4 linked regions of the Homo sapiens genome follow. The protein of the gene in region 2 interacts with the protein of the main gene of each other region in a pairwise test. Each region holds a gene or a part of one and is shown on either strand. Other genes may lie near its edges. The genes, in order: TRIM3, TEAD2, BCL2L15 and INPP5A.

Region 1 (7,028 bases), on a different chromosome or scaffold from region 2:
CTGGGCTCGGCCCCGGAGGTGTTGCTGGTGCGCAAGCACATGCGAGAGCGGCTGGCTGCATTGGCGGCACAGGCCTTCCCGGAGCGGCCACATGAGAATGCACAGCTGGAACTGGTCCTTGAGGTGGACGGTCTGCGGCGATCGGTGCTCAATCTGGGCGCACTGCTCACCACGAGCGCCACTGCACACGAAACGGTGGCCACGGGAGAGGGCCTGCGCCAGGCGCTAGTGGGCCAGCCTGCCTCGCTCACTGTCACTACCAAAGACAAGGACGGGCGGTTGGTGCGCACAGGCAGCGCTGAGCTGCGTGCAGAGATCACCGGCCCGGACGGCACGCGCCTTCCGGTGCCAGTGGTGGACCACAAGAATGGCACATATGAGCTAGTGTACACAGCGCGCACGGAAGGCGAGCTGCTCCTCTCGGTGCTGCTCTACGGACAGCCAGTGCGCGGCAGCCCCTTCCGCGTGCGTGCCCTGCGTCCGGGGGACCTGCCACCTTCCCCGGACGATGTGAAGCGCCGTGTCAAGTCCCCTGGCGGCCCCGGCAGCCATGTGCGCCAGAAGGCAGTGCGTAGGCCCAGCTCCATGTACAGCACAGGCGGCAAACGAAAGGACAACCCAATTGAGGATGAGCTCGTCTTCCGTGTTGGTACAGACAGCCGAGGGCAGAGCCAGATGGGCCAGGCTCAGGTAGTGGGTGGGGAGGGAAGGGAGGTTCAAGATGACCTCTGAATGAATTATTTTGTTTTCCCTCCTGTCCCTTCCCACAGGCAGTCGTGGAAGGGAGAAAGGTGAATTCACCAATTTACAAGGTGTGTCCGCAGCCAGCAGCGGCCGCATCGTGGTAGCAGACAGCAACAACCAGTGTATTCAGGTAAGCACCTTTACCGCTCTCCTCCACCACCAAAATAAGAGTTTTCAAGCTACAGGCTACTGAAAAGATAGAATGTACAGGTCACCTCCTGGAAGATGGAACCCTACAGATAGTACCGTTCCTTAAGAGCAGTGAATCAAAGGATCACCCCTTACGCACCCACCAGCCACCCCATTCCCATAGGCCACAACTGTAACCAGCACCTTCAGTCAGAAACCAGAGTTTACTATGCTTGTAGCCTCTACTTTGTAGGCCATGGCTTAGGGCAGGTCAGCTCCTGGACTGCAAAGATCTGGCTCATTCCTCCTTTCCTTCTGCCTCTCCTTGAGCCTCTTACTTTCTCCCTTTTTCTCCTGGTGGCCTGCCCTCCGTGTCTTCCAACATGCATGCCTGGCTCCTGAATGTATGTAGTCTGTCTGGAGTCTCTGCAGTTATCAGGTTGGCTAGACAGTTGCATAGGGGTATCTTGGCCAAAGGGGGTATCTTTCAGTGGCTAGAAGTTGTAGCAGGTGGTCCTCCCACTGCCTCTCCCATAACCTCATACACCTGATTATGGCATCAACCGCACTGAATGAACATGGTTTCTGCTGCACTGTGAGCTCCTTTTCAAAGCCAGGAAATGTGCCTTTTTTTCCCTCTGTTTCTTGTAGTAAAAGCTCAGAGCCTAGTACAGTGGGCACCAGGGTAGTTGACACAGCAGAGCAGTTAAAAGCTCAGGCTCTGAAACCAGACACCTGAGCTTGAATCCTAGCTCTGTCACATACTAACAAGTCACATGACCTCTTTGAGCTTCAGTTAACTCATGTGTAAAATTAGGAAAAGTATATCTGATAGGGTTGCGGGGAGTGTTAAATGATGTACTATACTTGACATCTAGTGAAACTTCTGATGTTAGCTATTGTTAAAAATATCATCGTCCAGGTGGAGGCTGTAAACAAAGGCAAGCAGGTGGGAAAGTGCTGGAGGAGGTGGTTCAGGGAACTGGAAGGAGCCCAGCAGGCCTGGAGGTAGATTACTATTAGAAGCCAGGGGTAGCTGAGGTCAGATTGTAATTGGTTTTGGAGATGGAGTGTGGAATTTTGATTTTATCCTATAGGGGATTGTTTCTAACTACCATGCACTTTACTTCTTCGAAACATTTTACTGGGTAGCAAAACTTTTCGCTGAAGATCCTTACTTCTAAACACCTATACGTTTAAACTTCCTGACCCTGCTTGAGTACTCATGTCATCGATCCAGCTCTGCTAAGGTCCTTTCCCTCAGTGACGGCTACTCTCTGACCCCTGCTTTTCACCTAACAGTCTAAAAGTGCAAGGGACTCTTCTGTGGCCATATTCCCAGTTCTGTCCAGTCGTCCTTTACTCCTACCCTATTTCTAAGAGCAGAGGAATGGAGAGGCCCTGTGCAGCACAGGAAGGCATTTGGGCCCAGCCTGGATAGTGAGGAGGGGATTGCGGGGGAGTAATGAGGTGGTGCTCAGTTCCCTACTCAGTTACACCTTCCAGCTCCTTTCCAACTCCCTAGGCTGGGAATGCTTCCTGGCATAAAAGTTGAGATTTGGGACCCCTTCTCTGTTGTGCACACACACAGGTGTGCTCACTGCTCACATGCACAGAAAAACAAGTGCCACTTTGTCTGTCCTGGTGAGGGGGCTGAACTTCCTCATAGTTTTTTTTTTTTTTTTTGAGACAGGGTCTCTGTTGTCCAGGCTGGAGTACAGTGCTATGATCACAGCTCACTGCAGCCTTGACCTCCTGTGCTCAAGCAATCCTCCTACTTCAGCCTCCCGAGTAGCTGGGACTACAGGCGCATGCCACTATACCTGGCTAATTTATTTTATTTTATTTTTATTTTTAGTAAAGACGGGGTTTCACTATATTGTTTGGGCTGGTCTGGAACTCCTAGGCTCAAGCTATCCTCCTGCCTTGGCCTCTGAAAGTGCTGGGATTACAGGCATGAGCCACTGCACCTGGCCTCCCCATTGTTTCAGAGTGGGGAATTGAGAGGGAACACCTGGTATAGCTCCACTCTCTTCCAAACACCTGCTACTTCTATAGCAGTCCTCCTCTTGCTTCTACTTCCACCTGCCCTCTATGTCGCCACTGCTAGGAGCCTGGCTCAGATTTCTAAGTTGAATTTCTGCTTCTCTTACTCTGGAGTCCTTAGGGCTGGCATGGGCTGGGCTCCCTGATGAGGTCTGATCCCCCTCCTCCTCTCAGTACATGGGGATTGGGGTCCTCACGACATGACCGTTTTCTCTTTTGGACACTTCTATGGTGGAGGATGAGGCAGACCTCACTGAGTGGAACCAGCATCAGTTGACAGAAGACAAAAAACATTTTGTGATTCTGAATTAATAATTTGATTTGTATATATTATGTCCTTGTGTAATTGTCTAAGCTTCCAGTTTTATCAGCTCTTCTGTGAAAACTCCCTCATTCCCTTAGGCAGAATGTTAAATCACATTCTTCTCAGTTCCCTCAGCCTTTTGCTATAGTACTTTTCATACTTTACTGGAATCACTGGTTTGTTTTTGTTTTTGTCTGGTTTTGTTTTGTTTTATTTTGGTTTAAGTCTTTCTCCCCCACTAGACTGTGAGATCCCTGAAGTCAGGGATCTACTTTCAGATACCATGGTATAGGAGAGAGATGTTAAGGACCAAACTAGGACACCAGCAGATTCTAGAGATATTAAGGAAGCAAGAATGGCAGATTTTGCTAAATCGTCAAATGTCAAGAATGGCAGGACTTTGTGGACTGGGTAGATGGTGTTGCCATTCAGGAGCAGGCCCAGGTTTAAGTTGATGAATTCACTTTTGCAGATGTTTGAGATAGCTATGCGGCATTCAAGTGGAGATGTCCAGTTCAGGTCTGAGATTGAGCTGGGGAGTTCATTCATTTGTTGAATGCCTACTATGTGCCAAATGCCATATCAGTGCTGCAAGTGCAGCAGCAAACAAAACAGATGCAGTCCTTATGCCATGCGAGGCTTACATCCTTAGAAGGGGACACCGATATTTAACAGTTATTTAGCTGCAAAGTGATAATTGTTATGAAGAGAGCTGTAAAGCATATATCCTGGTGACCTAAGTTTATATGTGCATATTGATTTGGTAGGGCGGAGGGTGGTACTTGGTCATTAGTCTTCTCTGAAAAAGTGACCTGGAAATTCTAAGAATGGAAAGATGAGTAAGAGTTGGCCAGGTGTCAGGGGTGGGATAGGCTGGGACTGGAAGAACAAGACATCCCAAAGCCTCATCAGTATTGAGCCAGAACCTGAGCTGCTCAAACTGGAGGGGCATTACCTCACCGCTAAACTGTACCTTTTAGTGCCCCCTCACTTCTACTATTTAGCTCGTGGAGCTCATGGTATCTCCCTTCTCATACTGATGAGTGCTGTCCTGCCACAGGGGACCACTGCAGAACCCAAGAGCTGTGCTGGTCAGCCAGAGAAGAGCTTAGTAGAAGGTCCACATTAGAAGAAAGTGATGCCTGTTGGTGGGACCAGTTTAAACAGCCCTGCAGGACTAAGAGATGGAGTTGGGGTGGGGCCGGGGCGGGGAGACCAGTCCATTAAGGAAGGCACAGATTTGAATCCAAGAGCAAGGCCAATGCCCAGAACTTGAGTTCTCCAAGGCTGCTCCTGGCTCTCGTTCATCTTGTGTCCCCAGAGCCTATAACAAAGCAGAGTGTATGAGACTTATGTAGTGAGTAATGTTTTGACTATGAAGGAAAAGCCAGAAAGCTTAGCTAAAGTGGGAAGGAGGATTAAAGGAGGTGCTTTTGGGATGGGGAGACCTGAGCATATTGGGCAGCTAAATTAGAGGAGGTTGGAGAAGGGAGAGGTTGAAAGGTTCACTCTGTGTAGGAGGAAGGTTTCCTTGTCAGCCCCATAGCCTGAATGGACTAATTCTTGTATACTTTCTCCTCTCTCACCTACCCCATTCCAGTCTGCTACTAAGTCTCATGAGCCTACCTCCTACATATGTCTTGAGTCCATCTGCGTCCCTCCAGCCAATTTCCTTGGTCCAAGCCATCATCATTTCTCAACTGGAATACTGCAACAGCCTCTGACTGGGCAGCTAGCTTGTAGTCTTGACTTCTCCCTACAGCCAGAATGTTCTTTCTTAAAAGCAAAATTGATCTTGTCACTGCTATGCCTAGAAATGTTAAGAAACTCCTCATTACACCCAGGATAAAACATAATTCCTTCTTTTGTTCACCTGGGTGCTCCCTGCAGTCCAGCCACACTGGACAAGTCCTCAAGTGGTGCCCATACTGGACTTTGTGCCTTTTACAATCTGTTCACTCTGCTTGAATGCCTTTCCTCTTCCTTTCCTGGCCGAATTTGGTTTATGTGGCATCCTCATTAGGCTATTTGTTCAGACATCTTCTTCTCTTGGAGCCTTTTCTCACCATTCCCCTTCATCCCTTCATGTTCTCACAATCCCATTCATATCTCTGTTGCATTGCCCCAGACCTGCTGCCATGTTTGATTTTGTCAGTAAGTGCTTGTTGAATGACTGAATAAATGGTGGTGGGGGGGTCTCCTCCCTCAGGATCCTACTCCCTTCTGTCTGTGCCCACAGTGTCTCCCCTCCTACCTGCTCCCTCCCCTTGCTCCTCTGCTCCAGGTTTTCTCCAATGAGGGCCAGTTCAAGTTCCGTTTTGGGGTCCGAGGACGCTCACCTGGGCAGCTGCAGCGCCCCACAGGTGTGGCAGTGGACACCAATGGAGACATAATTGTGGCAGACTATGACAACCGTTGGGTCAGCATCTTCTCCCCTGAGGGCAAGTTCAAGGTGAGAGGCCTGCTGTCACTTTACTTACCCTGGTGTCCAGCTGAACTGACCAGTCTAGTGCCTCTTGGTGGTCAGGGTCTGGACTGATCCAATCCTACCTCCTCCTACTCCCTGTTCTTTCCCCAGCCCAAGATTCTGCTTTGGTACTGGGTTAGGACTACTTTCCCCACTGTCAGAATAAAGCCTCTTATGGATATTCTCTTCCTCCAGACCAAGATTGGAGCTGGCCGCCTCATGGGCCCCAAGGGAGTGGCCGTAGACCGGAATGGACATATCATTGTGGTCGACAACAAGTCTTGCTGCGTCTTTACCTTCCAGCCCAATGGCAAACTGGTTGGCCGTTTTGGGGGCCGTGGGGCCACTGACCGCCACTTTGCAGGTATAGGGGGACAGCTCCAAGATCTATGCTGATACCCCTGTTCCAGAGAACTCCCCTAGATACCCCAGCTGTAAAGGCCCTCTCCTCCTATATCTTGGCTCTGGAGATCCCACTTCCCTTACGTTAGCCCTATCATCTCAGAAATAATTTGTCTCAGTCCTGGAGACCCCACCCCTCTCCTAACACCCTAGCTTTTATCTTCCCAGATACTCTTCCCCATCCCACTCAGCATCCCAGCTTACTGCCCTGAAGACCACTTTGTATTTTCAGGGCCCCATTTTGTGGCTGTGAACAACAAGAATGAAATTGTAGTAACGGACTTCCATAACCATTCAGTGAAGGTCAGTGTCTTCCCTCCCTCCGTGACCACTGTCCCAACATCCTTTCCTCTTCCACAAGACTCCTCTCTATTTTACCTCCTCCTTTTCCCCTTTGAGATCATTCACTCAAACAATACACATTTACACATTTATGCATGGCTGCTTTGTCCCAGGCAGTATGCTAGAAGCTGGAGATACAGTGATGCACAAAGCAAATGTATTCTGTGTCTTCTTGATTATAGTCTAGTAGGGAAGAGAAAAAGGTAACCAAAAAATTACAATATGATGTAATAGATTCTGTGATAGGAAGGTGCAGGGAACTGTGGGAAGGGATACAGAAGTGTATGATTCAGGAAAGACTATATGAGGAGGACCTCAAGCACAAGTGGGAATTAAATGGAAGGCAGAGGAGGACGAGAGTGTTTGAGACAAAAGACACAGGAAGAGCCAAGAATGCAAGGTGGGAACCTTAATAGTGTGTTCGAGAAATCACAAGTAGTTCAGACTCAGCTTGAGGAGGGGACCGTGAAAGCTGAGAGTGAGGCTTGTGTGCCCCCTTAAGGGGCTTGCTCTCCTCCCAAGAGCTATGGGGAGTCACAGGATTGCAGGCAGGGGAGTGATGCAGTCCTGTGTGTCTTAGATCACTCAGGCTGA
Region 2 (5,350 bases):
GCAGTTCCCGTCGAGCCCCGCCCTTTTCTACCTATCCCCTTCTCCAGCCCCTTCCCGCCCAATTCACGGCCCCACCCCTGACCTTTCTCGCCCGGGTGGGCATCACCCCCGTCTCGCCAGCACCCCTTCGACTTCTCTGACCTCATCTCCTTTCTCTATAGCTCGGGTTCATGACGCTCTCGATATTCCTGTGCAGAAACCTGGACCACGTCTACAACCGGCTCGCTCGATACCGTTAGGCCCCGCCCTCCCCAAAGTCCCGCCCCGCCCCCGTCACGTGCGCTGGGCACTTCCCTGCTGCCTGTAAATATTTGTTTAATCCCCAGTTCGCCTGGAGCCCTCCGCCTTCACATTCCCCTGGGGACCCACGTGGCTGCGTGCCCCTGCTGCTGTCACCTCTCCCACGGGACCTGGGGCTTTCGTCCACAGCTTCCTGTCCCCATCTGTCGGCCTACCACCACCCACAAGATTATTTTTCACCCAAACCTCAAATAAATCCCCTGCGTTTTTGGTAAAATAGCTTTATCCTCTGTCAGAACACAAACAAACAAACTTTGAGAGGGGAGGAAGGAAACCGTCTAGCTCAGGGCTCACTTAGGAGAGGGATGAGATTAGAAAGTTCAACACACTGCTTGTGCAGCGGAGATAAAGTCAAGACCCTAGCACCCACTTATAAATATCTCGTTATATTAAAAAAAAAAAAAATGTCCAGGGCCCACCTGGCTCTGCTCCTGCACAGAAAGGGTTCATCTTCACTTTGTGATCTCACAGGTCATGGAGTGAGGGTGGTAGAGAGGGGCAGAAATTTCAGGGGGAGGGGTGGCTGGGAAAAAGTAAAGGGGACAAGCCAATGTGTAACTAGCGCTCTCCAAGACATGCAGAGGAGTGGGGGTGGCCTGTCAGGGGCTGAAAAGAAAAGCCAGTGCTGTACCTGGGGGGTTGTCTCACTCCTGTCCCCACAATCCCTGATACTCCGGAGTGATCTGTCCTTTCAGACACCCACTGTGAGGTCCCAATATCGGGGTTTATCCTTTCCTCAGTCCCAGCCTGTTCAGCTCTCCAACCAAGTTTTGGGGGCCCCTCTAATGGGGGGGATGGCCCCAGTTGCTTAGGCCTCTGAGGTCAACCCCTTTACATCACAGCCCTCTCCCCAAATAAGAAGCATGAGGTGAGCTGGAGGACCCTCCCTGGGAGGAGGGTGTTCTGGGGGGTGAGCCAGTTTTGGGGTCCCCCTTCAGTCCCTGACCAGGCGGTAAATGTGATGCTGGGCCCCACGCTCGCTGGTGGAGACCTCGAAGACATAGGCGGTGCAGAGCAGCAGTTCCTGGGTGTCTCTGTTTGTCACCACCTGCCAGGAAGGCCAGGACAAGGGACTTATGCTTAGAAGGGAGGGCAGGGACCCCTGTGCCCCCCTGCCAAGCTATCATGGAATACCCAGCAGGCTCTTTTCCATCTCCAGGAAACAGGCCGCCACCATATCATGTTCCCCAGGAGAAAGGGATGCCCAAAAGTCAGTTCCCTGGGCAATGGGGGTTACCCCTCAGCTGAGCGTTGGCAGTTATGGTGTATCACATCTCAGGGTTAATCGGGTTCCCATCACATCACATTCCCTGGGTAAAAGGGGTCCCCATCATGTCACAAGTAAAGGGAGAACCCTCCCTGCAGGTTCCGCGGTCAAGGGGTCTCTGCCTCAGCAGTCCAAAAAGTTAAAGGGGCTCCCACCATATCATGTTCCTTGACAAGCTGAGGATCTGCCTTCGAGTGCCCTCCAGTCAGCTTCACCAGGGAAGGAGGGACCCACCTTATGTGCGAGTGCTGTGGGGCTGGGCGTGGTGGCTCACACCTGTAATCCCAGCACTTTGGGAGGCCTAGGCAGGTGGATCACTTGAGGTCGGAGATCAAGACCAACCTGGCCAACATGGTGAAACCCCATCTCTACTAAAAATACAAAAATTAGCCAGGCGTGGTGGGGCGTGCCTGTAATCCCAGCTACTCGGGAGGCTGAGGCAGGAGAATCACTTGAACCCGGGAGGCAGAGGTTGCAGTGAGCCGAGATCTTGCCACTGCACTCCAGCCTGGGCGACAGAGCGAGACTCCATCTCAAAAAAAAAAAGAGAGAGAGTGCTGTGACATCCCCACCCTGGGTGAAGGGTCCCCTAAACTAAGGGTCAATGGTGGGGTCCCCGCTGCATCAGTTTCCTAGTTAAAAGAGCCTCAGGCTGAGGGCTCACTTTGGAGTCCCTGCTGTGTCAGTTCCTGGGTGAGGAGATCCCCTAGACTGAGGGTCTGTTATAGGTACTGTCCCTCCACACTGGGGGGCCCCACTCCAGCCCAGCCCCAGGCATCACCTGGAGGATGGTGAAGTTTTCCAGGACGCTGTTCATCATGTATCGCTCAGGCAGCTGCCGCAACTTGTGCAAGAAATTCACCAGGTACTCGCACATGGGCGAGCGCAGCAGGCGGTACACAAATCTGCCGTCCTCCAGCTGGGCCCGTTCCGTCTGAACCAAGGGGAAGGGAGTTGGGAAAATGGTGGCTGAGAGACCCACGGGTCACCCCAGGAATTGAGCTCCACCCTGTGCCTCTAAGATGCCACCACACTCACTCTCACTGCCACCTTCCTTTCATCACCCCACCCACAGTGACTGGAGACTGGGCCTGAACCCTCGGAGATCCGAATCAGGATCTCTGAGCCTGCAAATCACAAGCCCCTCAAAGTGATTCTCTGAACCCCCAAAGACCTCTGGACTCCTCTAACCTCCCAGCCCTCAGATACCCTCCAAAGACCCCTCCATGACGTCTTCAAACTCTGACTTCTAAACTTGAGACTTCCCCAAGTCTCCAGCAACTGTAAGTGTGACTTCTGAACCTTCTTGCCCTAAGAACCTCTCCATATCCATAAGACCCTTCTCAATCTCAGTGACTCTAAGTCTCTATACTACACATTACCTGTCAGCCCGCAGAATGATCCCTGCCTGTGACTTCTGAACTGCCCATTAGCTCCCAACGCATGCATTAAACCCTCAAAGAGGCTGGGACCCACTCCCTCCATGCATACTCCCAAATGCCTGAGTCATGATGGCTTCTGGTCCATTCTGCACCCCCAAGTGCTGACCCAGAGCTCCACCCCTCCAGCCTCACCTCCACCTTCTCCACCACCTGCTTGCCAAAAGAGCAGACCTTGGAGGAACAGGTGAGGGTCATGTGTTCCAGGCTCTCATACTGGCTGCTCACTCCGTAGAAGCCACCACTGCTGATGCTGCCACCGGCCCCTGCCTCCTCACCACTTGGGCCCCAGTTCAGGTCCGCCTGGGAGATGGGAAGGCACAGATGAGTCAGAGGGGACATCCCTTATAAACAGTGGGGACTACCAGGCGCAGTGGTTCACACCTGTAATCCCAGTACTTTGGGAGGCCGAGGCGGGCGGATCACCTGAGGTTGGGAGTTCAAGACCAGCCTGACCAACATGGAGAAACCCCATCTCTACTAAAAATACAAAATTAGCCGGGCGTGGTGGTGCATGCTTGTAATCCCAGCTACTGGGACACTGACGCAGGAGAATCACTTGAACCCGGGAGGCAGAGGTTGCGGTGAGCCGAGATCATACCATTGCACTCCAGCCTGAGCAACGAGAGCGAAACTCCATCTTAAAAAAAAAAAAAACACAGTGGGGACTCTGCCCCATAGCCTACCATTACCCCTGCAGTTCCCGGCTTGATTCTTCAGTGTTGTTTTGTTTTTTTGTTGTTTGTTTGTCTTTTTTTTTGGGGGGGGGGGAACAGGGTCTTGCTCCGTCACCCAGGCAATGTGTGGTGGTACAATCACAGCTCACTGCAGCCTCGACCTCCTGAGCTCAAGTGATCCTCCCATCTCAGCCTCCTGAGTAGCTAGGACCACAGGTGCATGCCACCACATCCAGCTAATATTTTGTATTTTTTGTAGAAACAGGGTTTCACCATGTTGCCCAGGCTGGTCTCCAACTCCTGGGCTCAAGCGATCCTCCCACCTTGGCCTCCGAAAGTGCTGGGATTACAGGCATGAGCCACCGCGTCAGGCTTTCAAAGTTCTCCAAGGGCTGGTTTCTGGAGAAGATCCACCGTCCATCAGCGTTGAAGAAGTCTGGGTCCCCAAAACAGTCTTGGCCCTGTCTCCCCAGTAACCAAAGGAGCCCTGGAATTCAATTTCAACCTTTTTTCTTTTCTTTTTTTTTTTTCTGAGATGAAGTCTCGCTCTTGTTGCCCAGTGCAATGCCGCGATCTTGACTCACTGCAACCTCTGCCTCCCGGGTTCAAGCGATTCTCCTGCCTCAGCCTCCCAAGTGGCTGGGATTACAGGCGCACGCCACCATGTCTGGCTAATTTTTGTATTTTTAGTAGAGACAGGGTTTTGTCATGTTGGCCAGGTTGGTCTCAAACTCCTGAACTCAGGTGATCCACCCACCTAGGCCTCCCAAAGTGCTGAGATTACAGGCATGAGCCACTGTGTCCAGCCAATTCAACCTTTTTCCCTTGAAGCCCGCAACTCAAGAGTTCAGCCCCTTCCAAGGGCCTGGTTACTATGGCAGTTACTTCTTAGCAACCAGTTCAAGATGAATACCTCCCTCTAAGCCCCTCTCACTCTGGTTGCTAAGGCAAGTGGCTACTCCCTAGCAACGGGACCTCACGGAGCCTGAGGAGGCCTGACTCCTCCTCAGAGCACTTCCCCCTCGGCCAAATCTGAGAGGTCAGACTCCCTCCATGACCCCAGTGGCCAAGTGTGTGTAGACAGCTGGCCAAGTGTCACTAGGCCAAGTGGGGCCTAAGGAAGCCTAAGAGCTCATCACACCTTTGGTCTGAGTCACCTCCTTGCGAGGCGCACCTCTTCCTCTTCCTAACTTTAGTTGCTAACACTGTGCCAGGTCCGTCTTCTCAGGGGCCCGACTCCATCTCTCACCGTGGCAAAACCAAAGACCTTACCAGCTGCTCCTCTGAACCCCTTCAGCAGCTGGGCTTCCTAAGGGGGTGGCTCTCCAGTCCTGGGACCTGATAAGGCCTGTCTTAAGCCCCAACAATGTCTAAGCCCTCAGCTGCACATCCCCAGAGCAGTTTCAGGCTTCTGCTTCACATGGCAGAAAGCTCCAGAACCGTGAACAGCAAGCTCCAGAACAACAACACTCCCAGCAAGAACAGTAAAGTTCAGGCCCTCAGCAGGCCTTTCCTTCCTTTCCTTCCTTCCTTCCTTCTTTCTTTCCTTCTTTCTTTTCTTTCCTTTCTTTCCTTCTTCCTTTCTTCCTTTCTTTCTTTCGGCAGGGTCTCATTCTGTCACCCAGGCTGGAGGGCAGTGGCACAATCTTGGCTCACTGCAGCCTCCA
Region 3 (7,228 bases), on a different chromosome or scaffold from region 2:
GGCGGGTGGATCACAAGTTGAGGAGTTTGAGACCAGCCGGCCAACATGGTGAAACCCCGTCTCCACTAAAAATACAAAGAATTAGCTGGGTGTAGTGGCGGGTACCTGTAATCCCAGCTACTCGAGAGGCTGAGGCAGGAGAATCGCTTGAACTTGGGAGGCGGAGGCTGCAGTGAGCCGAGATTGTGCCACTGCACTCCAGCCCAGGTGGCGGAGTGAGACTCCATCTCAAAAAAAAAAAAAAAAAAAAAAGGCGTAGCAAGGGAACAGGATGCAGGTGGTAGAAATTGAGTAAACTTATTGACTTTTTAAAATTAAAGACTATAACTGAAATGTTGATCTAAAGAAAATTAGGTATGACTAAGCAACTGAATAAATAATAATACTAAAGTGATCCCAACTATTGGAGCTTTTAGAAGACTATGTTCTACTTGGTTGCTTTTCTATAATGTAAGAGGAATACATAGAATATGAAATTGTTGCTTTTGGAAAATATACTTTTAAGATTATCTCAATGAAGAACTGATTTCTCCTGTAGCCTGGTTTTACTAATTTATAAGCAAAATGACTAAAGCTCAGGTATACTATGAAGTTAATTCTTTAATATTTCCCCTGCTAGGAACTCTGTATAGCTTCTGCAGACATGGGGTTTGATGATGTGATATAAGTAGATGTTTATATTTTACAATCCATGAAGGTAGTCTATACTGTGCTCTTAGAACAGCAGCCATCTAATGTCATTCTTAGTTGACAGGTAAACAGTATGTTACGTATGTAATGAGGTTCCACAAAGACAATAGTGTTTTGGAACACTGCAGAGGCAATAATTTGCATATTACCATCATTTTATAGTTATGAATCAGTGACTGTGATGTGTTTCCATTACCCCTATTTTTGAACAGGCGTTCTGTTAAAAGTATTCTATTCCTTTCTTAGATATGGGATGTTTAGGGGAGAGGGGACACATTACTTGTTTTCTTAGTTACAAGTCTCCATGTTGAGAGGAGTTACACTCAAGGATCTTCATCCACATGCACATCTGGTACAGATGACAAGATCCTGGACTTTAAGCCAATGATATGAGACAAAGCATTTTGGGGAGGGATGTAATTTGTTGTGGTCAGAGGGTGGCAAGAGAAACAAGTGACGGTGAAAAAATTCTGGCCTCGTGATTTTTCAGTAATAATTAAGAGCACAATATTACAACTGCAAGGGTGAAGGTATGTGGGCTGAGGGAAAGGGATAGTTTTGGAGGGTGCTATATTGAAGGCCCAGAAGAAGTAAACAAACTTGGAAAAAATTTACTCCACATTGCTAATGACAGCCTGTACTCTGTTTCTATAGCTTTACAACATTGATTATACAAGACAATGCAAAGGAGTTGAAATTAGATTTTTTTTTTTTTTTTTTTTTTTGAGACAGAGTCTCATTTTGTCATCCAGGCTGGAGTGCAGTGGTGTGATCATGGCTCAGTGAAGCCTTGATCTGGGCTCAAGTGATCCTCCTGCTTCAGCCTCCTGAGTAGCTGGGACTATAGGTGCGTGCTACCACCCCTGGACTCAAAATTCGATTTCAAAGATGGCATAAGCGTATTGATAGTGAAATGAGGAACGTGGTTTATTACTGTGGGAAAAGCTTGAGTTTAATGTAAGACAGACTTGGTTTAAAATTTATATTCTGCCACTTACTGATGTGTGAACTTGGGCAAGCTATTTAATACCAGCTGGATGGTCTCATAAATATTTTTATTTTTTATATATTGTTTTGGGAGTATGTCACAAATGTATTTTTTAGAATCCTTCAACTGTCAGTGGCTAGCTCTAATGTGAAAGGAGGTTAGCCTAGAATTTTCTCTGAGTGCCCGCCCTTCTGATGTTAAAAGTCTGAAGCCTACTTAGTAATAATGAGGTTTCAGCCCTTTTGCCTCTAGAGAGAATGAGCGACAGATAATGACAAATGAAAATAGCACTTTAGCTACATGGGAACATAATTTGTGTTCTTACTCCAAAAGCAATTTATGATCATTTTTAAAAATTAAGACTTTTTAAGAGCAGTTTTAGGTTCAAAGCAAAATTGAAACAAAGGTACAGAGATTTCCCATATACCCTCTGCCCCAACACAAGCATAGTCTTCTCTGTTATCAACATCCTCAATCAAAGTGGTACAATTTGTTGTAACTGATGAACTTACCTCATCAATTATTACCCAAAGTCCAATTACCACCCAAATTCCTCCTCATCTTTTCATGGCCTGATCTTTTTTTTTGAGACACAGTCTTGCTCTGTCACCCAGGTTGGAGTGCCATGGTGCCCTCTCAGCTCACTGCAAACTCCGCCTCCCAGGTTCAAGCAATTCTCCTGCCTCAGCCTCCTGAGTAGCTGGAATTACAGGCGTGAGCCACCGCGCCCAGCCAGCTCATTTCTTTTTAGCACTAAATAATGTCTATTGTCTGTATGTATCACAGTTTATTTATTCATTTACCTACTGAAGGACATATTGGTTGCTTCCAAGTTTGGGCAGTTATGAATAAAGCTGCTATAAACAACCATGTGCAAGTTTTTGTGTAGATAAGTTTTCAGCTCCTTTGGGTAGATACCAAGGAGTATAATTGCTAAATCATATGGTAAGAGGATGTTTAGTTTTGTGAGAAACTGCTAAACTCTTCCAAAGTGGCTGTACCATTTTGCATTCCTACCAGCAATGAATGACAGTTCCTGACCCACATCCTCACCAGCATTTGGTTTTGCCAGTGTTCTGGATTTTGGCCATTTTAATAGGTGTGCAGTGGTTGTATGTGTTTTAGAATGGAACAGAAAACACAAGATTGGCTTTGATATTTTGCAAGATAGAAATTCCATTCTGAACAACTGACTTACTGTTTATGCTTGAATCTTTTTTTGTTTTTTTTTTTTTTGGAGACAGAGTCTTGCTCTGTCACCCAGGCTGGAGTGCAGTGGCGTAATATCGACTCATCGCAACCTCCGCCTCCCAGGTTCAAGCGATTCTCATGCCTCAGCCTCCTTAGTAGCTGGGATTACAGGCATGCACCACCACGCCCAGTTCATTTTTGTATTTTTTAGTAGAGATGGGTTTTGCCATGTTGGCCAGGCTGGTCGTGAACTCCTGACCTCCGGTTATCTGCCCGCCTCAGCCTCCCAAAAGTGCTGGGATTACAGGTATGAGCCACCATGCCCGGCCTATGCTTGACTCTTTTATTAGTTGGAGCTGTTAATATTAATAACTTCACCAGGTCAGACAGGTTGAGTGGTAAGTTTGCTGATAGGTTTGATGGCTGCTTCTGAGACCCAGACCCAAAATCTAGGTTTAGCTACGTTAAGAAGGCAACCACTACAGATAAGTGTCCAATCATGAGATCTCTTAAAACAATGATGGAGTCCAACCCTGTTAGGAAAATCCTTTTGCTAGACAGAGAATCTCAGATCTCTTTCCTCCTGGTCATTATGTCTTGGGCTAAAAGGAGGACATTTAACATTTATTGTATGCCAAACAGTGCTAGGCCATTCCGCATGTTATCTTATTTAATCCTCATAATTTATCTATGAAATATTTTCTGTTGTCCCCATTTATAATTCCAAGTTGTTTTTTTTTAACCTTCCCAGACTTTATATCTGCTACCTCTCCGCCTAGAATAGTGTTATGCCTCCTTTTTGCATAATGAATGCCTACTTATTCCTCAGAGCTCATGTCAGATGGTACTATTTTAAGGAAGCCTTCCCAGTCCCCTAGGTTTGTTTCCCTATTAAACTGATCAAAGGCTTGATTCCCTGTTACACTTCACTGATCAAAGTGCACTGATCTCAATAGCACAAATAACAATGCGATTACTCATTTAATATCTGTCATTTCTGCTGAAGTGTAAGCTTCATGAGCACAGTAACTGTGCCTGTATCATTTTTCTATGTTACTTGTAGTGCCAACTATAGTTCCTTGTTCAGTAAGTAATTATTATATGATTATGGCAAATAAATTCCATAAACAGAAGTTGAACGCTGGTCCACTGTAACTTCAAAACCTTCCTTCAAATTATACCATGTGCAGGACCTAAGAAGTCGAGGAAGTATTTCTTAATAAAATTACTCCAGAGGCTCTTCCTGAACTCTATTTCAGTTCTAGGTTGGCTACCTAACGATAAAAGTTAAGCATTAATTTTATGTGGTTAGGGTGTGGTCTGAGATAGAGAACCTAAAGTCTTTAAAGTCTCCCCAGTTCCAAGTAGGTAATCCTTCTGAGAAGTCCCACCTTTCTGAGCAGCTGTGTTTGAAGAAAGCTAGTGGGAAAAGTTCCAGGATTACATGTCAGGAAACTACAAGAGGTAGAAACATTTGTTGATTTACCAGTGTTTTTAACTTCCTGCTGGGCTGAAAACTGCTTGTTTCGTGGAAAAGCAAAACTTGACAGCAAACATCTAAAATGAAGAGCTCCCAAACTTTTGAGGAACAAACGGAATGCATTGTGAACACTCTACTCATGGACTTCTTGAGCCCAACATTGCAGGTTGCCAGCCGGAACCTATGCTGTGTAGATGAAGTAGATTCAGGTAAGGTTCCTGCCCTAGGCGGTGATTGCAGGTCAATAAGAGTATGTTTTCAGCCGGGCGCAGTGACTGATTCCCGTAATCCCAGCACTTTGGGAGGCCAAGGTGGGTGGATCACCTGAAGTCAGGGGTTTGAGATCCGCCTGGCCAACGTGGTGAAACCCCATCTCTACTAAAAGTAGAAAAATTAGCCAGGTGTGGTGGCTCATGCCTGCAGTCCCAGCTACATGGGAGACTGAGGCATGAGAATTGCTTGAACCTGGGAGGCGGAGGTTGCAGTGAGCTGAGATCACGCCACTGCACTCCAGTCTGGGCGACAGAGACTCGGTCTCAAAAAAAAAAAAACAGTATATTTTATTTATTTCCTTTAAGTTTCAAAAGGCAAACTCTAAGCTTTCAGTAACACCTAAAGCGAAAGAGGTTCTCAATGAAGGGAAACTTTCTGACTATTGGTGTTGACAGAACATTTAAGCTCTTGGGAGATCATGATATGAAAATTATTTAAAAGACAAGACAAATTTTTCTCATTGCCCAGATTCCTGGGACTTGCCATTGCTTCAAGCATTGTAACAAATGTGTTCCCTCTGTCATAGGAGAGCCTTGTTCTTTTGATGTGGCTATCATTGCTGGTCGCCTTCGGATGTTGGGTGACCAGTTCAACGGAGAATTGGAAGCTTCTGCCAAAAACGTCATTGCAGAAACCATTAAGGGACAGGTCAAGTTTCTACTTCATGCTATTGTTTGCTGCTTTTTTTTCTATTTCAAACTTCCTTTTCTTACTACTCCCATACTACAGTGACTAGGAATGTTCTATGAAAATATTTGGGTGCTTATATTTCAAGGAAGTATAGCAAGAATTCTCCAATTGCTAAAACCTAAGTGGTACAGAGATGGAAAATTTTGGGCATAGGCTGATGAACCTTCAGTTTGTCTCTACTTGGTCTTCATCACAGCTGTTGTGCTTAGTGTGCACAGAGCACATTTATAACACTTTATTCTTGGCAAAGTATAGTATCTTTTTTTTTTTTTTTTTTTTCAGACAGGGTCTTACTGTGTCACCCAGGCTCAAGTGCAGTGGTGTGATCTCAGCTCACTGCAGCCTCCACCTCCTGGGCTCAAGCGATCCTCCCACTGCAGCCTCCTGAGTAGCTGGGACTTCAGGCAAGTGCTACCATGCCCATCTATTTTTTTTATTTTTTTATTTTTAGTAAAGATGGGTTTTTGCCATGTTGCCCGGGCTGGTCTTGAATGCCTAAGCTCAGGTGATCCACTCACCTCGGCCTCCCAAAGTGCTGGGATTATAGGCGTGAGCTACCACACCCAGCCTATGCTTTTTTTTTTTGAGATGGAGTCTCACTCTGTCACACCCAGGCTGGAGTGCAGTGGCGCGATCTCGGCTCACTGCAACCTCCACCCACCGGGTTCAAGCAATTCTCCTGCCTCAGCCTCCCAAGTACCTGGGACTACAGGGGTGAGCCACCGCGCCTGGCCCATCTGGGCGGATCACCTGAGGTCAGGAGTTCCAGACCAGCATGGCCAAAATGGTGAAACCCCGTCTCTACCTAAAAATACAAAAATTAGCCGGGCGGATCACTTGATGTGAGGAGTTCAACACCAGCCTGGCCAACATGGAGAATCCCTGTCTCTACCAAAAATACAAAACTTAGCTGGGTGTGATGGCCCATGCCTGTAATCCCAGCTACTTGAGAGACTGAGGCAGGAGAATCGCTTGAACCCGGGAGGTGGAGGTTGCAGCGAGCCAAGATCACACCACTGTTCTCCAGCCTTGGCGACAGAGCAAGACTCTGTCTCAAAAAAAGAACCACCCTCTTAACCGTTATGCTTTATTCGTCCTACTATACACAGCTTGGGCAGTGTGCCTACACTATGTTCAGGCAGAGCTGGACCTGTTACTCCCAGTTGCTTGCCCTGAGGCTGTCCTAGGTAGTTGATAGCTGAGTTGACTTTTTTTCTCATTAAACATATTTTTTTTTTTGGCTGGGTGCTGTGGCTCATGCCTGTAATCCCAGCACTTTGGGAGGCCGAGAGGGGCGGACTGCTTGAGGCCAGGAGTTTGAGACCAGCCTGGCCAACATAGTGAAACCCCATCTCTACTAATAATACAAAAATTAGTTGGGCATGGTGGCACACACCTGTAATCCCAGCTACTCGGGAGGCTGAGGTAGGAGAATTGCTTGAACCCAGGAGGCAGAAGGAGGTTGCAGTGAACTGAGATCTCGCCACTGCACTCCAACCTGGGCAACAGAGCGAGACCCTCTCTCAAAATAAATAAATAAATACAAATACAAAAATTAGCCAGGCATGGTGGCACACAACTGTAATCCTAGCTACCTGGGAGGCTGAGACAGGAGAATTGCTTGACAGGGAGGGGGAGTTTGCAGTGAGCCGAGATGGTGCCATTGTACTCCAATCTGGGCGACAGAGCAAGACTCTGTCTCCAAAAAAAAAACATAAATAAATAAATAAATAATTTGACTTGAACTTGTTTTAATAAAAAAAAATATATTTTGAAACAGCCCTAAACTCAGGGAAAGGTTGCAAGGATAGTACAAATAATTTCTCTCTTGAATCATTTGACAGTAAGGAGTTGACATATTTCATCAACCCCTAATACTTTTATACTTCCCTCAAACAAGAACATTCTGTAATGTA
Region 4 (7,479 bases), on a different chromosome or scaffold from region 2:
GGAGAACAAGAGCTTTGGGCCAAGTGGCTGACCAGGTTGAAGAGGGTTGGCAGCTGCTGAGGAATTCATCCATGGTAGGAGGAGGAAAATCGGGCAGGCTCTGCTCCCCATCTCCCTCTCTGCTCCTTGCAGACTAGGTGGGCCCAGGATCTCCTTAAGCCAGGTAAGTAGGTCTTTAGGAAACTCGTTATTATTATTATTTTGGCAAAGGAGCAAATACACGGGGCAATATTTCAAGGGTGAAGAAGGGCACACAAGGGAGAGGCATCCTCCCTCTCACCTGGTTTCATGAGTGTGGCTTTTAACACAGGTGACACAAGTGGCCAATGTCTTTCTGAACATAGGAGAGCCAGGCCCCGGGCACAGTGACAGGTCTGCCATGCCCATGCAGCGGTCGGCATGCTGATATGATCTAAGGTGAGGGCCCAGCCAGGTCAGCCGGGAGAAAGTGAACACAGGAAGGGCACACCCAGGACCCCAGGGCCCCAGAACTCAGGTGAGCATGAAGGGAGCCAGCAGAGGAGACTGGGGGTGGTCAGCGCAGTTGGGAGGGAAGAGCAGGAATGCCACAGATGCCAGGGCAAGGCTCACTTCCAAGAGGCAGCCAGTGGTCAACCGTATTGGAAGGTCAGCTGCAATCAGGCCTGGGGGGCTGGCCCTTGAATTAGGATGCCCCATGGGGTGTGGGCATGAGAAGCACAATTCGAGGGCCTGGACAAGAGTGGTCCATTGGCATGCGGGGCAGAGATGGGCAGACTTTTAGGACAAGGTTTGCAGCAAGGAGAGCAGAGAGGGGGGAGGAAAATGGAGGGGCACAGGCTGGAGGCTTCCAGAGATCTGAGAGACCGCAGCATGCTTGTGAACTGCCGACGTGACCCAGGAGGGGGTGGCCTTGGGCGGGGACAGGCACCTCATTCCATGTAGCAGCATGGAGGATGTGCAGGACAGACACCAGATGCTGGATGTGTTGACTTAGTGGCGTGATCACAGTCAGAATCCAAATGGAGTCACTGGTATTAAAAACCCTGACATATAGACTGTGGAAGGGCATGAAGGGAGGGTTCTTATGCAGACATGCTTGATAGCAAGAACAATCACAAAAGACTGCAAAAATCACAGCCGTGCACAAAGACCATCACAACTTACACACACAAACACTTCTGGGAAGACATCTGCCCAGTAGCTGCCTGTCCAGCCTCAGACTGGCACCATCCTTCCTGGAGATCCTTGTAGCCAAGGATCATTGATTCAAAACAATGATGTAATCCTCCTGTTTCCTTTGAAAATCTTTGTCTTCCTTTACCTTCCTTGACCCACACCCAATTTACGATGGCACACATATTCTATTGCAATGAATGTTCCCGAGTAAATCTCATTTTCTTTTAGAGAGCCTCTCTCTGTTATTTAGGGTGACAGTGGGAAAATCCCAGACTGCAAATCCTTCCTCAACAAAGGGCAAACGTTTCCTCCAGGGAGCGTAGTTGGTGGTTAGAGAAGGGGAAGGCTGCAGTGGCCTCTTGGAGTGGTGGAGTGCACATGCGCAGAGCCAGGAGGCCTAGTGCTCAACGTGGGTGTGCCTGAGACCTGGGAGATGCCAGGGGCATGGAAATAAGGTGTTGTCTAGTTTTTCCCCCAATTTAGTTTTCTCTAATTTGGGCGCAGGTTCACTGTAAGCAAGTAAATCAGTCCTGGGGGCCAGCTGGGTGAGTGCTGGGGGGCAGGGAGAGGGGAGGGAGTGGGTACACAAAGTGATTCTACCCTCAGAGAGAAGCAGAGTAAGGCAGGAAGAAGAGGTGTGCACATGCGTGGTCATGTGTGCACGTGTGCATGTTCGTGCATGCGCATGTGCAGATGTGTGTGCGTGCAAGTGCATGCGTGTGCATGTGTTTCTGTGTGGGTGTGCACGTGTGGCGGTGGCTAACGAAGGCATGGGAGCAGCATGGGCTGTAGGTTTCCATGAGGTCCCACGGAAGTGAAACCAAAGGAGAGGAGGTGGTGGGGAGGGCAAGGTGCCTGGATTCGGCCTTGGTGTGGTCATTGGTGATGAGAACATCCAGGCTATGCCCAGGGCCGTGGATGCAGAAGTGGGAGGTCCAGGCCGCACCCCCTTGGGTTCTGGAGGTTCTGGTAATGAGCACGGAATATAGGAGGCAGGAGAACTGTGAGGGGCTGAACCTGTGGTGGGTGAGGGGTGCATGGGAAAGAGGAGGTGGCTGCCTGGAGGAAGGGCAGAGGCCAACGTCCAGGCATGGCAGGAGCTGGCTGGCGAGGAGAGGAGGAGGGGGGAGCAGGGAGGGCACAAGGGGTGGGGGACGCTGCCTCAGCCGGGTGTGAGGGCACAGCCTGCGGGGAGAAGTGAGGAGGCAATGTCCCTTCTCAGAAAGCACGTTCCAGGGATCAGTGACACCCCCACATTTGGTTTCTACTAAGGGTACCCTTAGCATGTGCTGATTTTGTTAAAAAGAAAAATAAGCGACTACATCAGTCAGCTTCAGCTGCTGTAGCGAAATATCACAGGCTGGGAGGCTGAAACAAGACTTTTACTTCTCACAGTTCTGGGGGCTGGAAATCCAAGATCAAGTTCCAGCAGCGTTGGATTTCTGGTGCAGGGTTTGTGGCTGGCTGGGGTGAAGCTTCCCACTGTGCACTCACACTGCCACTTCTTTTGCACATGTAAGGGTGGGGACAGCACTGAGCCCTTTCTATTAAACACTAGCCCTATTGCACGACTTAACATTAAACACCAGCCCTACTGCACGACTTAACATTAATTACCCCCGCTAGCCCACCTCCGAATACAGTCACATTGGAGGTTAGGGCTTCAACCCATGAATTTGCGGGGTGGGGTGGGGTGGGGCGGGCGGAATTCAGTCTGTAGCAGGCACCTACTGACTAAAGTAGACATTGGTTTATACATCAAATGGATTTTGCTGGAGTCCTGCTCAGCGGTGGCCGTAAGGAGGAACCCTGGGGGTGTTAACACAAGCCAGTGATGCGGCCTCAGCACAGGCCTGGGGCCCGAGCCTGCAGCACCATTCCTGCCGCCCCGCCCTGGCAGCAGGTGTCTTCCTAGAACAGAACAAGCCCCTTTTGATGTCATTGGGCATTGCCTTGGCGGTTTACTCAGAAGCTGGAGGCTAGCCTCGCTAGAGCCCATTGCCAGGCCCTGACCGCCCCTAAATCTGTGTCCACAAAATCCTCCGGAGTGCCTGCTCCGCATGGTGGCCACTGGCCACACAGGGCTGCTGAGCACTGGAAGCGGCCTTGTGAGCTGCTGCCAAGAGGCAGGTGCCCGTGCAAAGCCTTCCTGTGAAGGAATCTCACTGAGGTTGTTAAATTCTGGTTACATGTTGAATGATGTATCTATCTATTGGGTTAAGTAAAACGTATTGTTAACTTTGGCTATTACTTGTTACCTTTAAAAAATGTAGCTACTGGAAGCTTTAAGATGACAAATGTGGTTCTCCTCCTCCATCTACAGGCATGTCCCGGTTCACGGCGGCTGTGTCCCCGCGGCCTCAGACCCAGGGTCCAGCCCATGCTCTGGCCCCTCCGGCGGCCAGGATCAGCATCGCTGCCCCGGGGCCCGCGCCGAGCCGGCTGCTCCTCCGTGCTCTGCGCTCCTGGGCCCGCACCAGCCCCCTCCCCTGGAGCCCCCTTCGTCCCTGCGAGGGTTCCCTGCACGCCCCGCGCTGAGACCCAGCCTGGCCCGGGCCGGAGCCCTCCGCGACGTCAGGATGCGCCTGGCCTCACGCCGCCTCCCCTCCGTCTTCTCTGGGCCGCAGCCGCTCCTCGTGAGTGAGGTCGCGGCCAGGGAGCCGGGTGGACGCGCCGGGAAGCTGCACGGTCCACGCTCCGTCTGCGCGGAGAGCCGGGCGCGCGTGGCCCGGCCCCTGCAGGCGCGACTGCCGCCGCCCCGGTGGGCTCCCCTCCCCCGCACGCCCGGCACGCGGCTGGACGACTGCGGCCGCGCGGGGGCTGGAACATCCCCTCAGAGCCGCAAGAGAGCGCACCCGCCGCCGGCGCCCGGAACCCAGGGCCCCTTTAAGAGGCGCCGCCGGAGCAGGGCCGTGACGTCATAGAAGTGCGAAGGGCGGAGTCTGTGCGCAGCCGCGGCGCGGGGGGCGGGGCGGGGGCGCGGCGTTCTTGCGGGCCTGACTGACAGGAGCGCCCTCCGGGAGCGACCAGTACTAGGCCGCCGGTCGCAAGAGCGCCCCGCGTAGGCCCCGCCCCGAAAGGAGGCCCCGCCCCGGGGCAGGCCCCGCCTCCACAAGGACACCAAGTCCCGCACAAGCCACGCCCCCCGCAGGCCCCGCCCCACTCTGTTCAGATCTAGGCCCAACTCAGGCTCCGCACCTCAAGGCTCCGCCCCCAGCAAGGCTCCGCCCCAGGCCCGGCTCCACCCCGCACAGGCCCCACCCCGAGTCAGGCTCCGCCCCGCCCAGGCCCCGCCCCGGGCTCGGCTCCGCGGGGCGGGACTTGCCCTCAGCCTGAGTCGGCGGCGGCTGCGGGAACTTTCCCAGCGGATCTAATGGCTGCGCGCGGGCCGCTGTGAGGCGCGGCGGCGAGCGACGGGCGCGGGGCCGCGGAGCAGCGAGCGAGCGAGCGAGCGCGAGGCCGGAGCCCCGGCCAGGCCCGGCCGACCCGCCGAGCCCGCGATGCGCCCCGGGGCCGCCCCCCGGCGCAGCTGACGCCCCGCGGCCCCGCGAAGACCCCGGCCGGCCGGTCCCGGAGGAAGCGGCCGCCGCCGCCGCCGCCCAGCCCAGCGCCCGCGCCGCCCGGGCACCATGGCGGGGAAGGCGGCCGCCCCGGGCACCGCGGTGCTGCTGGTCACGGCCAACGTGGGCTCGCTCTTCGACGACGTAAGTCCCCCGTGCCGGCGGCAGGCCCCAAGCCCGGAACCCCCGACCCTGACCCCGGGGTCCCGAACTGCAAGCCTTGGACCCTGGACCGTGAACCTCCAGACCCAGAGGCCCCAGACTCTGATCCCTGTACCCGGGACCCCAGACTCCTGTCCTGATTCCCAAGTCTGGGAGCCCAGACCCCTGTCTTGATCCCCAAGCCCGAGACCTGAAGACCTGGGCCCTGAATCCCCGAACCCCATCCTCCAGACTCCAGCAGCTGACCGTTGACCCTGGGACCCTGCCTCTGAACTCCTGTCTGCAAATCCTGACCTCGAAACTCCAATATTAAAACCCTGTCAGAACCCCTGTTAACAGTTCCTGGAACCCAAACCCCAGAAACCGGGTCTGTGCGCACCAAACCCAGCCCCAGCCCTGATTTCCGAATCCTCAGAACCCTGGCCCTGGAATGCCCATCCCCAACCCTGGCCCTGAACCCCAGGTCCATGGTCACTGGAACCACAAATCCTGACTGCAGAACTCTGGTTACAGAACCTGCTCTCAAACGTCTGTCTCTGGTCCCTGAGCCCTGGACCCCAAACCCTGAAACATAACCACAAACCCTAACCCAGGAACTTCTGACACAGGGCTGTGGCCCCAACCTCCTGTCCCTGTTCCCCAATCACTGAATTCTAGCCCTAGAATCCCAGCCTTCATACTGTGGCCCTTTGCCTCTAAAGCCAATCTAGCCTGACTCTGAACCCTGAATTTCAACCTCAGGCCCCAGCTTATGGCCCTGAACACTTGTCCTTGACCCCTGAACCTGGAACCCTGGTTCCAGAATCAGGCCCCAAACCCAATTCTGGACCCTGCCCCTAACTCTGGTTCCTAGATCCCATCCTTGGCCCCTTCCTCCAACAAGCTCCTGCCCCTGAATCCTGAATCCTGAATCCTGGTCTTAAAGCCTGGGCCTTGAGCCTGCAGAATTCCCAAACCCTAACCCTTGACTCCCACCCCTGGCCCCTGTCCTCTGAGCCTAGGCCCTCCACTCTGGCTGTCAGCCCCAGCTCCTGGATGCCTGGGTGCCGGCCTCACTGTCTGTCTGTCCCTGCAGGGCCAGAGGGTAGGGTGCCCCCATTTAACCCTGCCACTTAGTATCTCTTTAGTTCGTAAATAAGGGAAGTCTGTAAAGCACTGTAGGACTTTATATTTCTTGTTTATTGAAGAAAAAGATGCTGAGAAGCTCTTCAGGGCCAGAAAGGGGATGCTGACTGCCTATGGCCTTTACCTTCTAGGGCCCCTCCCACCCAAGCCTCATTCCCACCCAGGATCCCAGGGTGCCCCCATCTCTGGAGAGACCAGGGAGCTGAGGCCCAGGGCGCACTGGGAGCTCCCCAGAGGCAGGCCGGTCTGACCTAGTTTGGCGTTTCAGCCACGGTGCCACCCTGCTGTTGGTACTCCTGCTGCCAACCCAAATAAAGCAGAGTGAGGCTCCAAGTGGCCCAGATGGAGGCCGTGGAGCCACGGACGCTCCCTCCCTCCCTCCCTCCCTCCCTAGGTGAACAGTGGGGCACCGCACCAGCTTTATGACGGATGTGTGCCACTGATGCACGCGTGGTTTCCATTTCAGGAGGAGGTCTTGTGTCTTTGCTGGCAGCAAGCATGGGTGAAGTGTTTGATGAAGCTCAGTTCATGCACAGGCTAGGTTTGGTTTTTATTAACAAAAGGCGCTGTTTTTCTGTTTTTCTTATTTTAACTTCCAGGTGCCCATGTATTATACTGACCTGCTGGGGAGGAACTGGTTTTCCTCACACTTTATTATTAACAACTTCATCTAGGTTTATGTTTGATCATTTTCTACAAAAGTGCCTGGCATGGGTGTGTGTCTGTATATTTGGCGTTCTATTCTAGGCTTTCCAGTAACATGTCACTATAGCATGGTTTTGTTCAGATGATTCAGATCCGTTAGCTGCGGCTTCAAAGCCTCAGAAATGTCAGGAGCATTAAGCTTGCTGGGGCATTTTAGTCTCAAAGGGAAACGAGTTTTACTGTGCAGACATTCTTTCCAGTAATCTTTGATTCTGAGTTCTAGCATTTTTGTTGTGTTTCAATTGTATACACGTATTTATCTCTGTTGATATTAAATTGGGTAACTTAATTCACTTTTGTTTAGCAACCTATTCTCTCTGAATTTTCATTTTTCTTAAAGGCTATGTGGAATTTTGCATTATGTTTATGTTTAGAAGGAACATTTGTTTAGGTCAACAGTACATAGGTTAATTCTGAAAGGTGCATTGTGATTTCAGGGCTGAGTGGAAACTTATCTGTCCGTGTCTGAAGATTTCTTAATGTGTGCAGCTCAGTCCCCGGGGGCCAGACCCAGTCTCCTTCAGTGGAAACCAGCCAGGCACTCACATTCCCAGGCCCCCTTCCTTGGTTGAGGTTTGGGGTGTGGTACTTGTGGGCCAGAAGCCTGGCCGGTGGAAGGAAATTCATGAGTGAAGGAAGTTTTGGTTTCTTGGTTTGTCCTGGATTTCAGGGGACCTGCTTTGAGATTCTGTTTGCCTTTGTGCAGCCCGTCCCGTGCTGACGAACGCACCCTGCAGGCAGTGCTCAGGCTGTGAAGGAATCTTTCTCG

Evidence for each region.
Region 1: the proteins of TEAD2 (region 2) and TRIM3 interact in binary tests that used the Homo sapiens proteins (3 or more experiments, as listed by UniProt).
Region 3: the proteins of TEAD2 (region 2) and BCL2L15 interact in binary tests that used the Homo sapiens proteins (3 or more experiments, as listed by UniProt).
Region 4: the proteins of TEAD2 (region 2) and INPP5A interact in binary tests that used the Homo sapiens proteins (3 or more experiments, as listed by UniProt).

The regions. Positions count from the first base shown.
Region 1 is NC_000011.10:6,449,918-6,456,945, reverse strand, and holds part of TRIM3 (tripartite motif-containing protein 3), read left to right. Parts: coding exon 1-649; intron 650-770; coding exon 771-874; intron 875-4,823; coding exon of another isoform or gene 4,824-5,072; exon of another isoform or gene 5,073-5,507; coding exon 5,508-5,675; intron 5,676-5,885; coding exon 5,886-6,054; intron 6,055-6,324; coding exon 6,325-6,395; intron 6,396-7,028.
Region 2 is NC_000019.10:49,340,090-49,345,439, forward strand, and holds the end of TEAD2 (transcriptional enhancer factor TEF-4), read right to left. Parts: intron 3,310-5,350; coding exon 3,142-3,309; intron 2,502-3,141; coding exon 2,349-2,501; intron 1,349-2,348; coding exon 1,235-1,348; 3' UTR 506-1,234; downstream 1-505. UniProt on the Homo sapiens protein: Transcription factor which plays a key role in the Hippo signaling pathway, a pathway involved in organ size control and tumor suppression by restricting proliferation and promoting apoptosis.
Region 3 is NC_000001.11:113,884,579-113,891,806, reverse strand, and holds the start of BCL2L15 (bcl-2-like protein 15), read left to right. Parts: upstream 1-4,225; 5' UTR 4,226-4,431; coding exon 4,432-4,558; intron 4,559-5,148; coding exon 5,149-5,270; intron 5,271-7,228.
Region 4 is NC_000010.11:132,533,310-132,540,788, forward strand, and holds the start of INPP5A (inositol polyphosphate-5-phosphatase A), read left to right. Parts: upstream 1-4,477; 5' UTR 4,478-4,787; coding exon 4,788-4,862; intron 4,863-7,479. UniProt on the Homo sapiens protein: Phosphatase that specifically hydrolyzes the 5-phosphate of inositol 1,4,5-trisphosphate to inositol 1,4-bisphosphate, and inositol 1,3,4,5-tetrasphosphate to inositol 1,3,4-trisphosphate. Plays a crucial role in the survival of cerebellar Purkinje cells.